Regions from separate parts of the Homo sapiens genome. Here region 2 is linked to region 1. Evidence: fine-mapped expression QTL. A gene starts in region 1. The other region holds a variant in brackets. All regions are shown on one strand. Distances are between the middles of the regions.

Evidence for each region. PIP is the estimated chance that this variant, and not a neighbour inherited with it, causes the effect.
Region 2: its variant is the best candidate, but not a certain one, in a credible set for the expression of CRKL in whole blood (INTERVAL, PIP 0.81).

What each region holds. Positions count from the first base shown.
Region 1 is chr22:20,915,095-20,920,462 of GRCh38, reverse strand. CRKL (CRK like proto-oncogene, adaptor protein) reads right to left here and starts at 3,056. Exons shown (of 3, transcript NM_005207.4): 1 at 2,218-3,056. The coding sequence starts at 2,528. RefSeq lists an enhancer at 2,340-2,399 and a silencer at 2,690-3,139.
Region 2 is chr22:20,687,493-20,692,860 of GRCh38, reverse strand. It overlaps the pseudogene POM121L4P. Among named protein-coding and RNA genes, the nearest start is that of SERPIND1, 84 kb to the left of the region's middle. The variant A/G (reference allele first, on the strand shown) is at 2,137.

The sequences.
Region 1 (5,368 bases):
TGGCGCGATCTCGGCTCACTGCAACCTCCGCCTCCCGGGTTCGAGCGATTCTCCTGCCTCAGCCTCCCGAGTAGCTGGGATTACAGGCACCCACCACTACGCCCAGCTAATTTTTTGTATTTTTAGCAGAGACGGGGTTTCACCATGTTGGCCAAGATGGTCTTGAACTCCTGACCTCGTGATTCGCCCGGCTTGGCTTCCCAAAGTGCTGGGATTACTGGCGTGAGCTACCACACCCGCCCATTAACTTGCTTTTTGAAACAGCTGTATTATTAGTACTCATGACCTCAACATAAGCATATGCATGGCTTAATGAATGCCTGGTATTAATTATATAATTCACGCTCACAAACGAGAGGAAGAATTTATTCAGTCATATTACAAATCTCACTACAGTGGGTTCTAAGATTCTCAACTCCTTAAATTGGAATTATATTGTGCTCAAAGTTGACTGCAACTACCAGCATCTGCCAGGAACCGCAGGTTTCACCAATCAGATTCTTGGTGTCCTGGTCTTTGTTATACAGTATTTGATTTATAATCACTTTCTCCCCACTTTTAAAGTCCATTTAGTTCAGTAGTTAATCTTGTAGTCATTATACTGTCATGGCTTTTTTTTTTCTATCTCTATCCCACTATGCAAACAGTTGGTGTCCTCAATTATAATAGCTTTTAATGTTTAAAGTTTAGAGTAATACCCGGTCGACAAATCCATAAAGTCATAAACATCTAACCCTGGAAAAACTGTATCAACACCCAGTCCTTTTAAAATAGATGTTTAAGAAACGAACTGGCCAGTTTGTTACTTTAAAAATTCTAGGCAACTTTTCAACTCAAATTTGGGATAATTTAAATAAAAGAAACCTCTGATAAAATCAGTGTTACAGGGCAAACACAACAATAAAAGCAAATCTCTGCTAAAACGCTTAAGGCAAATTAAAGCAACTAATCAATTAAAATAACGTATTTCACTTGGAAAAGAGAATGCTTGGTCACTTTGCGTTAATTTTAAAATAAGAAATACAAAATCATTAGACTTAACACAAAAAGCATGTCTGAAATTGAACTAGGATACAACTAAGTGTCATTCAAAAATTTTCCTTAATAACATTCTAGCCTAATTCCACCTTGGAAATTAACCAGACTGATCTCTGGCCTACTAATGGTCCTCGGGGAGAAAATATGCAATAAATTTTCCAAAAAATATCCTCGCTGAAGCCAATGCACCTTCTCTTATCTTTGTAATTAACGTACTATAAAAGTGGTGGTGTCTGGCCTGCTTCAAACTTGGCACCACAGTATCAATATACAGTTCTGATATTTTGGTTAAAGGTTTTTTTGTTTCTAAACGCTAAAGCATTTTCATTTTTTTGACTGTTCCAAAGGCTGCAGTCCTGGAGTTCTTAACCTGGAGTTCAGAGATCTGGAGGGAGTACAAGCACCCGGGATGGTGTGCAAACTTGTGTGTACGTGCCTTTGGCGGGGAGGGGTGGGGGTGGGGGTGGGGGTGGGGTGGTGAGTGCTCGGCTATCTTCAGATTCTCAAAGAAGTCTATGGCTTAAAAACGGTTTTTGGCCGGGTGTGGTGGCTCACGCCTGTAATCCCAGCATTTTGGGAGACCGAGGCAGGCGGATCACGAGGGCAAGAGATCGAGACCATCCAGGCCAACATGGTGAAACACCGTCTCTACTAAAAATACAAAAATTAGCTGGGTGTGGTGGCGTGAGCCAGTAGTCCCAGCTACTCGGGAGGCTAAGGCAGGAGAATCGCTTGAACCCGGGAGGCGGAGGTTGCAGTGAGCCGAGATCGCACCACTGCACTCCAGCCTGGCGACACAGCGAGACTCCGTCTCAAAAAAAAAAAAAAAAAAGAGGTTTTTAGAAAAACCAACAAATCCCTGCATCAGTATTACACCCAGAGAAAGTCACGAAAGGCAAAAAGCGTGCATTTTAACTATGCAACCACCGTTAAACATTCAAAACGCATCCTCTTCACATTGAGAAACAGCCTCGTGAGAGGGAAAAAAAAAAAACGCATCCTCTTATCCAGTGACCCAGATCCTGACACTAGCTTTCTGTTAGGAAGGCCTTCTGGAAAATAATTTGGTTCAGAATGCGGGGAATATGGGTTCAAGCGCGCCCCACCCCCCTATACAAGCACTCTTCGACAGACCCGGTTCTCGACCTTCCTCCGCGGTCGGGGAGGGCTCTCGCGTACCTGGGCGCAGGCTCGATGAGGGTGGTGGTGTCCAGGTAGTGGATCTTGTAAAACTCCAGCAGGGCCGGCAAATGGTCAAATTCCTGGTCCCCGATCTTAAAACGGCGGTTGGGCAGCGAGTTGATGATGTAGTGGGAGACCCGCGAGTTCTCGGACACCGACAGCACATAGTCCCCAGGGCAGGTGGAAGAATCGCGGACGAGGAACATACCGTGGCGCTGGCCCTGGAGCCGGGTCTGCGCCTCCTGGCGAGACACCGGCCCCATATACCAGGCGGAGCGGTCCGAGGAGTCGAACCTGGCGGAGGACATGGTGTTGGACCGGGGACTCTGCGGCGGTAGGGGCGGCGGCTGTCCTCGCCTGCTCTGCACGCCTTAGCCCGGCAGACGGCTTTGGGGCCGAGGAAGGGCCTCTCGCACACCTCGAGGAGCGCTCAGAGGGCTGGGCCAGCACTTTCCTCTCGGCTCCGGGCCCGCAGCATCCTCCGACGCCGCCCGCCTGCTCCGGGGCCGCCACACGGAGAGAGCCGCCCGGGAATGCACGGCAGAGCCGGGGGGTCGGGGCAGGCAAACCCGAGCCGCAGCGGAGGCCACCCCGGGGTTCTCGGGCTGCTCGGCGTCCCAGGGGTGCCTCCAGTGACTCCCGGCCTGGAACGCGCCGGCGCCGCAGCTCGACGGGTCTTCACCGACCCCCGCCGTCACACGAGGCACCGAACTCGAAGGAGCGTCGCGCCTCCGGGGTGCTTTTGCCCAGCTTGTTCCCAATAGCCACAGCAACAAAATGGCGGACGCGGGAGAAGCGGCAGCCACCTCCCCCTCCGCTCAGCGCGCTCCGTCTGCGCACGCGCTGGGCCCCGGCTCCCGGCGGCCGCCGGGGCCCTCCCGTTACGTCACACAGCGCAGCCAATCAGGAGCACCGTCGCGACGATCAGGGTGGGCGCTGGTCGCGCCCGCTCCCGCGTTCCAGGAGGAGGCTGAAGAGGCGCCGGCGGTAGGCACTCTCTTCCTGGGCCGCTGCGCGCCGCTGGGGGCGCTGCGGCTGCCGGGTCTCCCAGCGCTGGCAGGAAAACAGCTGGAGCCGAGAGGGAACCGCGTTTCGAAAACCTGCTTCTGGGAACAAAGCGTAACGTGCAGGCTGAATCGCGGGCCAGGGAGGCGTGGCACTGAGGCGACCTGGCCAGCCTAGGGGCCTGAGGGAGGTCAAGGACTGACAGGTCCCGATGGGCCGAGGTGGCCCAGTAAAAGGATGAGCCCAGGGGCAGATGTGACCACCAGATAGGTGACTGACTGAATGACTCAGTCCCCAGGTGGCCTGATAGGCTAAGGAAGCCCTAGTGGCTACGTGACCCGCTAAATGGAGTGAGAGGAGAGAGAAGGTGAGGGTTAGATTGACTCAATTAAGTGGTCAAGGAAGTCCACAAGTGGGTAACCTGGCTATCATGGGCTCTGAACTGCTGAAAGTAAAATACAAATGCCTCTCGGGCGTGGCCCCGAGGCTTCCCCTGCCCCGGATTATGCCTGCTTCTGCCTATTTATTAATCCCTATTTGTTTTTGTTTGTTTTCTTTCTTTCTTTCTTTCTTTCTTTCTTTCTTTCTTTCTTTCTTTCTTTTCTTTTTTCTTTTCTTTTCTTTCTCTCTCTCTCTCTCTTCCTTTCCTTTCCCTTTCCCTTTCCTTTCCCTTTCCCTTTCCTTTCCTTCTTTCGACGGAGTCTCGCTCTGTCACCAGGTTGGAGTGCAGGGGCGCGATCTCGGCTCACTGCAACCTCCGCCTCCCGGGTTCAAGCGATTCTCCTGCCTCAGCCTCCCGAGTAGCTGGGATTACAGCTGTCCGCCGCCATGCCCTGCTAATTTTTGTATTTTTAGTAGAAACGGGGTTTCACCATGTTGGCCAGGCTGGTCTCAAACTCCTGACCTCAGGTGATCTGCCTGCCTCAGCTTCCCAAAGTGCTAGGATTACAGGCGTGAGCCACCGTGCCCAGCCTGTTTGTTTTATTTTGTTTGTTTTTGAGACAGGTTCTCCTTCTGTCACCCAGGCTGGAGTGCAGTGGAACTATCATGGCTCACTGCAGCCTTGATTTCCCCATCTCAAGGGATCCTCCCACCTCAGCCTTCCGAGTAGTTGGGACTACAGGCTCGCGCTGCCATGCCCAGCTAATTTTTTTGATTTTTTTTTTTTTTTTTTTTTTTTTGAGACGGAGTCTCGCTCTGTCGCCCAGGCTGGAGTGCAGTGGCGGGATCTCGGCTCACTGCAAGCTCCGCCTCCCGGGTTCACGCCATTCTCCTGCCTCAGCCTCCCAAGTAGCTGGGACTACAGGCGCCCGCCACTACGCCCGGCTAATTTTTTGTATTTTTAGTAGAGACGGGGTTTCACCGTTTTAGCCGGGATGGTCTCGATCTCCTGACCTCGTGATCCGCCCGCCTCGGCCTCCCAAAGTGCTGGGATTACAGGCGTGAGCCACCGCGCCCGGCCTTTGATTTTTAATAGAGACGAAATCTCACCATGTTGCCCAGGCTCGTCTCAGACTTTTGAGCTCAAACAATCCTCCCCCTCAGCCAAGATGTGAGCCACCCCGCCCAGCTATGTATGAAACAAGTTAATATATGCAAAGTGCTTAGAATAGTACCTGGCACATAGTAAGCATCATATGAGTCTTCCATTATTATTATTCAGTCATTCCCTGGGCCTCTACCTCTATACCCTAAAACCCTGAGCATACACCCTCAGTGGGTGGGTGAGGGTGGAGAGAAAAATCTCCACTTTGTTTTCTAACTACTTTTCACTGTCAGATTTACCACTTCATAATCACCTGCTCCTTGCCCAGCCCTTTTTTTTTTTTTTTATTCTGATACGGACTCTAGCTCTGTAGCCCAGGCTGGAGGAGTGCAGTGGCGTGATCTCAGCTCACTGCAACCTCTGCCTCCCAGGTCCAGGTTCAAGCAATTCTCCTGCCTCAGCCTGCCAAGTAGGTGGGATTGATTACAGGCATGCACCACCATGCCCAGCTAATTTTTGTATTTTTAGTAGAGACAGGGTTTCACCATGTTCGCCAGGCTGGTCTTGAACTCCTGACCTCATGATCCTCCTGCCTCAGCCTCCCAAAGTGCTGGGATTACAGGCGTGAGCCACCGCCTGTAATCCTAGTGGTGATTT
Region 2 (5,368 bases), 230 kb after region 1:
AAACCTTGGAGGCAGAGGCTGCAGTGAGCTGAGATGGCGCCACTGCACTCCAGCCTGGGTGACAGAGCAAGACTTTGTCTCTAAATAATTAAATAAATAAATATGGCCGAACATGGTGCCTTAGGCCTGTAATCCCAACACTTTGGGAGGCTGAGGCAGGTGGTTCATGAGGTCAGGAGCCTGAGACCAGCCTGGCCAAGACGGTGAAACACTGTCTCTACTAAAAATACAAAAATTAGCCAGCTGTGGTGGCAGGCACCTGTAATCCCAGCTACTTGGGACACTGAGGCAGGAGAATCGCTTGAAACTGGAAGTCAGAGGTTGCAGTGAGCCGAGATTGCACCACTGCACCCTAGCCTGGGCGATGGAGCAAGACTCCATCTCAAATAAATAAATTAATAAATACAGAGCAAGATTCCATCTTAAATAAATAAATAAACTTACACCTGTAATCCTAGCACTTCGGGAGGCTAAGACAGGTCAATCACCTGAGGTCAGGAGTTCGAGACCAGCCTGACCAATATGGCTAAACTCCATCTCTACTAAAAATACAAAAATTAGCCGGGCCTTTTGACGTGTGCCTGTAGTCTCAGCTACTTGGGAGGCTGAGACAGGAGAATTGCTTGAACCCAGGAGGTGGAGGTTGCAGTGAGCCGAGATCTCGGCTGCACTTCAGCCTGGGTGACAGAGTAAGACTGTCTCAAAAGGAATAAATAAAATACAAAATAAAAAAAATGTAGTAAGATTGCAGAGTCGTGCCGCGGAAGCGTGCTGGTCCTATCCATGTAGTGAAGGCTGATTTCATACAGAAATGTCACAAGAACTTTTTTTTTCTTTTTCTTTTTCTTTTTTTGAGACGGAGTCTCGCTCTGTCACCCAGGCTGGAGTGCAGTCGCGCGATCTCAGCTCACTGCAAGCTCTGCCTCCCGGGTTTATGCCGTTCTCCTGCCTCAGCCTCCCGAGTAGCTGGGACTACAGACCTGTGCAGCAGATGCTGGGGGATCCACTAGGCCCAGACAGTCTTAGGACTTGTGTCTCTCCTGCTGTGCATCCATACTGGGTGCTTTAGAAATGGCAGGCAGACCAGAAGCCCCTGTAGCAAGTGAGGACAAAGTGTGGGAAGGCCGTGAGGGTCTGCAGTCCGAGATGGCCTTGTCCTCAACCTGCAGTGCACTGTTGATGCGCTGGAATGCCGCCTCCTTCTCCCGGTCCAGGTCTTCAGCAGTGACCCAGTACCCCAGCTCTAAGGGAGGTGGCAGCATCAAAGGCTCCCCTCGCCTGCGTGGCAGCAGGGGAAACTTGTGTCTACGGGGCCTAGAGGACTGGGATCTGGGGGAGCCACCCCTGGGGCCGAGTGTCTGCCCTGGTGCTGTATCTGCCGTCTTTTCACACTGGGTGTGACCCGAAGAGACAGCCTCAGGTCCGTCCTCACTCACTGTGTTTGAGGAACTGAGGGTCAGCTGGCAGTGGGATGAGGCTGGCGCCTCTTCCGCTTTCGTCCCGGGAGGTCTCCCGTAGAGCTGCAGGAGCTCGAGATGGCATTTCGTTTGGGGCACGAGCTGGTCCGGGAGGTCTGGGATCTCTGGTTCTGACCTCTGGGCACCTGCTGCAGCTGTGGCTGAGGCCCAGAAATGTGAAGGGCCTCCATCCACTCCAATAGTGACCCCAATGTGCGGTTCAATGTGGAGGGGGGAGGGGCTGCTGCGGCAGCTGCAGGAGCAGAAGTGCCAGGCCTTGTTCTTCTCATGCCCGCATCCATGCTTGCAGCTGGGAAGGGGGCAGGAATCAGCGAGGTGACCTGGGCTGAGTCCTGGGAGTGGGAAGAGGTGGCAGGAAGGGGATCTGAGGAGGAGAACAGGGGGCCTGGTGGTCTGTGCTTCTCCCCAGACATGGGAGCTGTAGAGGGGACCTCTGTAGCAGATGCTAGGGGGGCCACTAGGCCCAGGCAGTCTTGGGACTTGTGTCTCTCCTGCTGTGCATCCATACTGGGTGCTTTAGAAACGGCAGGCAGACCAGAAGCCCCTGTTGCAAGTGAGGACAAAGTGTGGGAAGGCCGTGAGGGTCTGCAGTCTGAGATGGCCTTGTCCTCAACCTGCAGTGCACTCTTGATGCACTGGAATGCCGCCTCCTTCTCCC[A/G]GTCCAGGTCTTCAGCAGTGACCCGGTACCCCAGCTCTACGGGAGGTGGCAGCATCAAAGGCTCCCCTCGCCTGTGTGGCAGCAGGGGAAACTTGCGTGTACTGGGCCTAGAGGCCTCGGATCTGGAGGAGTCATTCCTGAGGGCGAGTGTCTGCCCTGGTGCTTTCTCTGCCACCTTTTCACACTGGGTGTGACCCGAAGAGACAGCCTGAGGCCTGTCCTCACTCACTGTCTTTGAGGAACTGAGGGTCAGCTGGCAGTGGGATGAGGCTGGCCCCCTCCTCCGCTTTAGCCCCGGCAAGCCTCCCGTGGAGCTGTAGGAGCTGGAGATGGCATTTCGGTTGGTGCACGAGCTCGTCCAGGAGGTCTGGGATGACTGGTCATATCTGATTTCTGACCTCTGGGCATGGAGGTCTGTCTGCAGAGGCCCGGGCCCGGGCACAAAGGGAGAGAGGCCTCCATTGTCCCGCAGGGGCCGAAATGCAGACGGTGCATCCCCGGTGACCTCGGGGACCCTTCTCTGATCACCAGGATTCTCTTGGACTCTAGGGTCCTTGTCCTGCTCAGGCATCCCTGCCCCGCTCTCCTTGAGGGCCCTCAACACTATCTTCCCTGGACACAAGTCTGGGGACAGCCGGCTGTTGTGGACCCCAAAGGGGTGACTCCCAGCTCCTGGGCCCCACAGAGAGTCCATGTTCTCAGTGCAGTGGCTGAGCTGGAGGACGCCCTGGAACTCGGAGCACACAGCACTGGCTTGCTGTGGTACCTGTGCAATCAAATTGAAGGCAGGATCCCAGAAAGGAAGGCAGGGCTTGCAGGATCACGGAAAACCTTCTTAGAGTTGTCTTGACACCACGGATGTCAAGTGTCCGGGTGCTTGTAGGATGGCCTGCCACTCAGTCCACGGGCAGGAGCAACGGGGAGATCCCACAGGCAAAGTGAACTGGGGGATGGGCTGAACGGGCTCCAGGCAACTGAGCCCTACTGGCAGGTCCTCGGCCTGGGCCCGAACAGGAAGGAGGGGCACAGAGTGCCCAGGTAACCGCTCCTGGGAGCAGTGGGGAACCGTCGGTTGCTTGAACTCTCGAGAGCTGGGCTCTGAGCGTCCTCGTCCAGCCGCCAACTCGGCCAACGGCTAAGCCAGCAGTTTCTTCTGTTGCCGGGCAACGCGCCTTTTAAACCTGAGGGAGCGGGCGCGTGAGCACATCACGGCGCCCGTGACAGAGCGAGCTTAACGGATTAATAAGCGCAGCCAGGTACCCGCGCGAGGCACTTGCTGGCAATGGCGGGAGGCGGACGTGGGGGGTCATGCAATAGGTACTGGAAGGAGAGAGGCGGGCACAAAGGTCGCGGGAGGAACAGGTGCCCACAATGGCGGCAGATCTGCCCGTGGATCACTGAAGATTCCTGCTCTCCTGCTGAGGTGGAGATTGCAGTGAGCTGAGATCGCACCATTGCACTCCAGCCTGGGCAACAAGTGCAAAACTCAGTCTTCAAATAAAAAAAAGAAAAAGAAAAACAAAAGGCCGGGCGTGGCGGCTTATGCCTATAATCCTAGCACTTTGGGAGGTCGGGGCGGACGGATCACGAGATCAGGAGTTGGAGACCAGCCTGGCCAACATAGTGAAACCCCCTTTCTAGTAAAAATACAAATTTAGTCAGACATGGTGGCACGCGCCTGTAGTCCCAGCTACTCCGGCGGCTGAGACTGGAGAATCACTTGAACCCGGGGGCTGGGAAGGGATTGCGATGCGCCGAGATCGCGCCACTGCACTCCAACCTGGGCAACAGAGTCAGAGTCTTTTTTTTTTTTCTTTTTTTTTTTTTGAGACGGAGTCTCCCTCTGTCGCCCAGGCTGGATTCCAGTGGCCTGATCTCTGGGCTCACCGCAAGCTCCGCCTACCGGGTTCACGCCATTCTCCTGCCTCAGCCTCGGGAGTAGCTCGGACTACAGGCGCCCGCCACCACACCCGGCTGCTTTTTTGTATTTTTAGTAGAGACGGGGTTTCACCGTGTTAGCCAGGATGGCCTCGACCTCCTGACCTCGTGATCCGCCCGCCTCGGCCTCCCAAAGTGCTGGGATTAAAGGCGTGAGCCACCGCGCCCGGCCGAGACTCTGTCTTAAAAAAAAAAAGGCCGGGGCTGTGGCACTTTGGGAGGCGGAGGCGGGTGGATCACGAGGTCAGGAGTTGGAGACCAGCCTGGCCAACATAGCGAAACCCCGTCTCTACTAAAACTACAAAAAATTAGCCGGGCGTGGTGGCGGGCGCCTGTAGTCCCAGCTACTCTGGAGGCTGAGGCAGGAGAATGGCGTGAACTCGGGAGGCGGAGCTTGCAGTCACCCGAGATCTCACCACTGCACTCCAGCCTGGGTGACAGTGCGAACCTCCGTCTCAAAAAAAAAAAAAAAAAAAGAGAGAGAGAGACACAGAGAAAAATGTTTATTGACTTAATGCACTTTTATGCCTGTGTTCTTCAATTTGCTTAGGAAAGACCTACACTTGAGAGCTGGGACTGTGGCCGATTGTGGACATGAAATATATGGTTTCTTGCAAAAACTAGACACTGAATAATTACGATTTAGTTGAGCTAGAAATCCATTTGGTTTCTTCCATATTTTTCCAAAATTTTCATCCTTTTTTTTTTAATTTTGAGACGGAGTTTCGCTGTTGTCTCCCAGGCTGGAGTGCAATGGCGCGATCTCAGCACCTGCTGGCAATGGCGGGAGGCTAGGGGACGCTGGCTTGATAGGTACTGGAAGGAGAGGCGCGCGCACAAAAGACTTGGGAAGACCTGGCGCGCACAATGGCTGCAGATCCGCCAGTGGATCACTGAAGATTCCTGCTCTCCTGCTGAGGCGGGGATTGCAGTGAACTGAGATCGCACCATTGCACTCTAGCCTGGGCAACAAGAGGGAAACTCCATCTCACACACACACACACCAAAAAAAAAAAAAAAAAAAAAAAAACACACAAAGAAAAGAAAAAGTAGTGGCCAGGCGTGGCGGCTCACACATCCCAGCACTTTGGGAGATTGGGGCGGGCGGATCACGAGATCAGGAGTTGGAGACCAGCCTGGCCAACATAGTGAAACCCTGTCTCTACTAAAATACAAAAATTAACCAGACATGGTGGCACGCGGCTGTAGTCCCAGCTACTGGTGTGGCTGAGGCAGGAGAATCACTTGAACCCGGGAGGCGGAGGTTGCGGTGTGCCGAGATCGCGCCACTGCA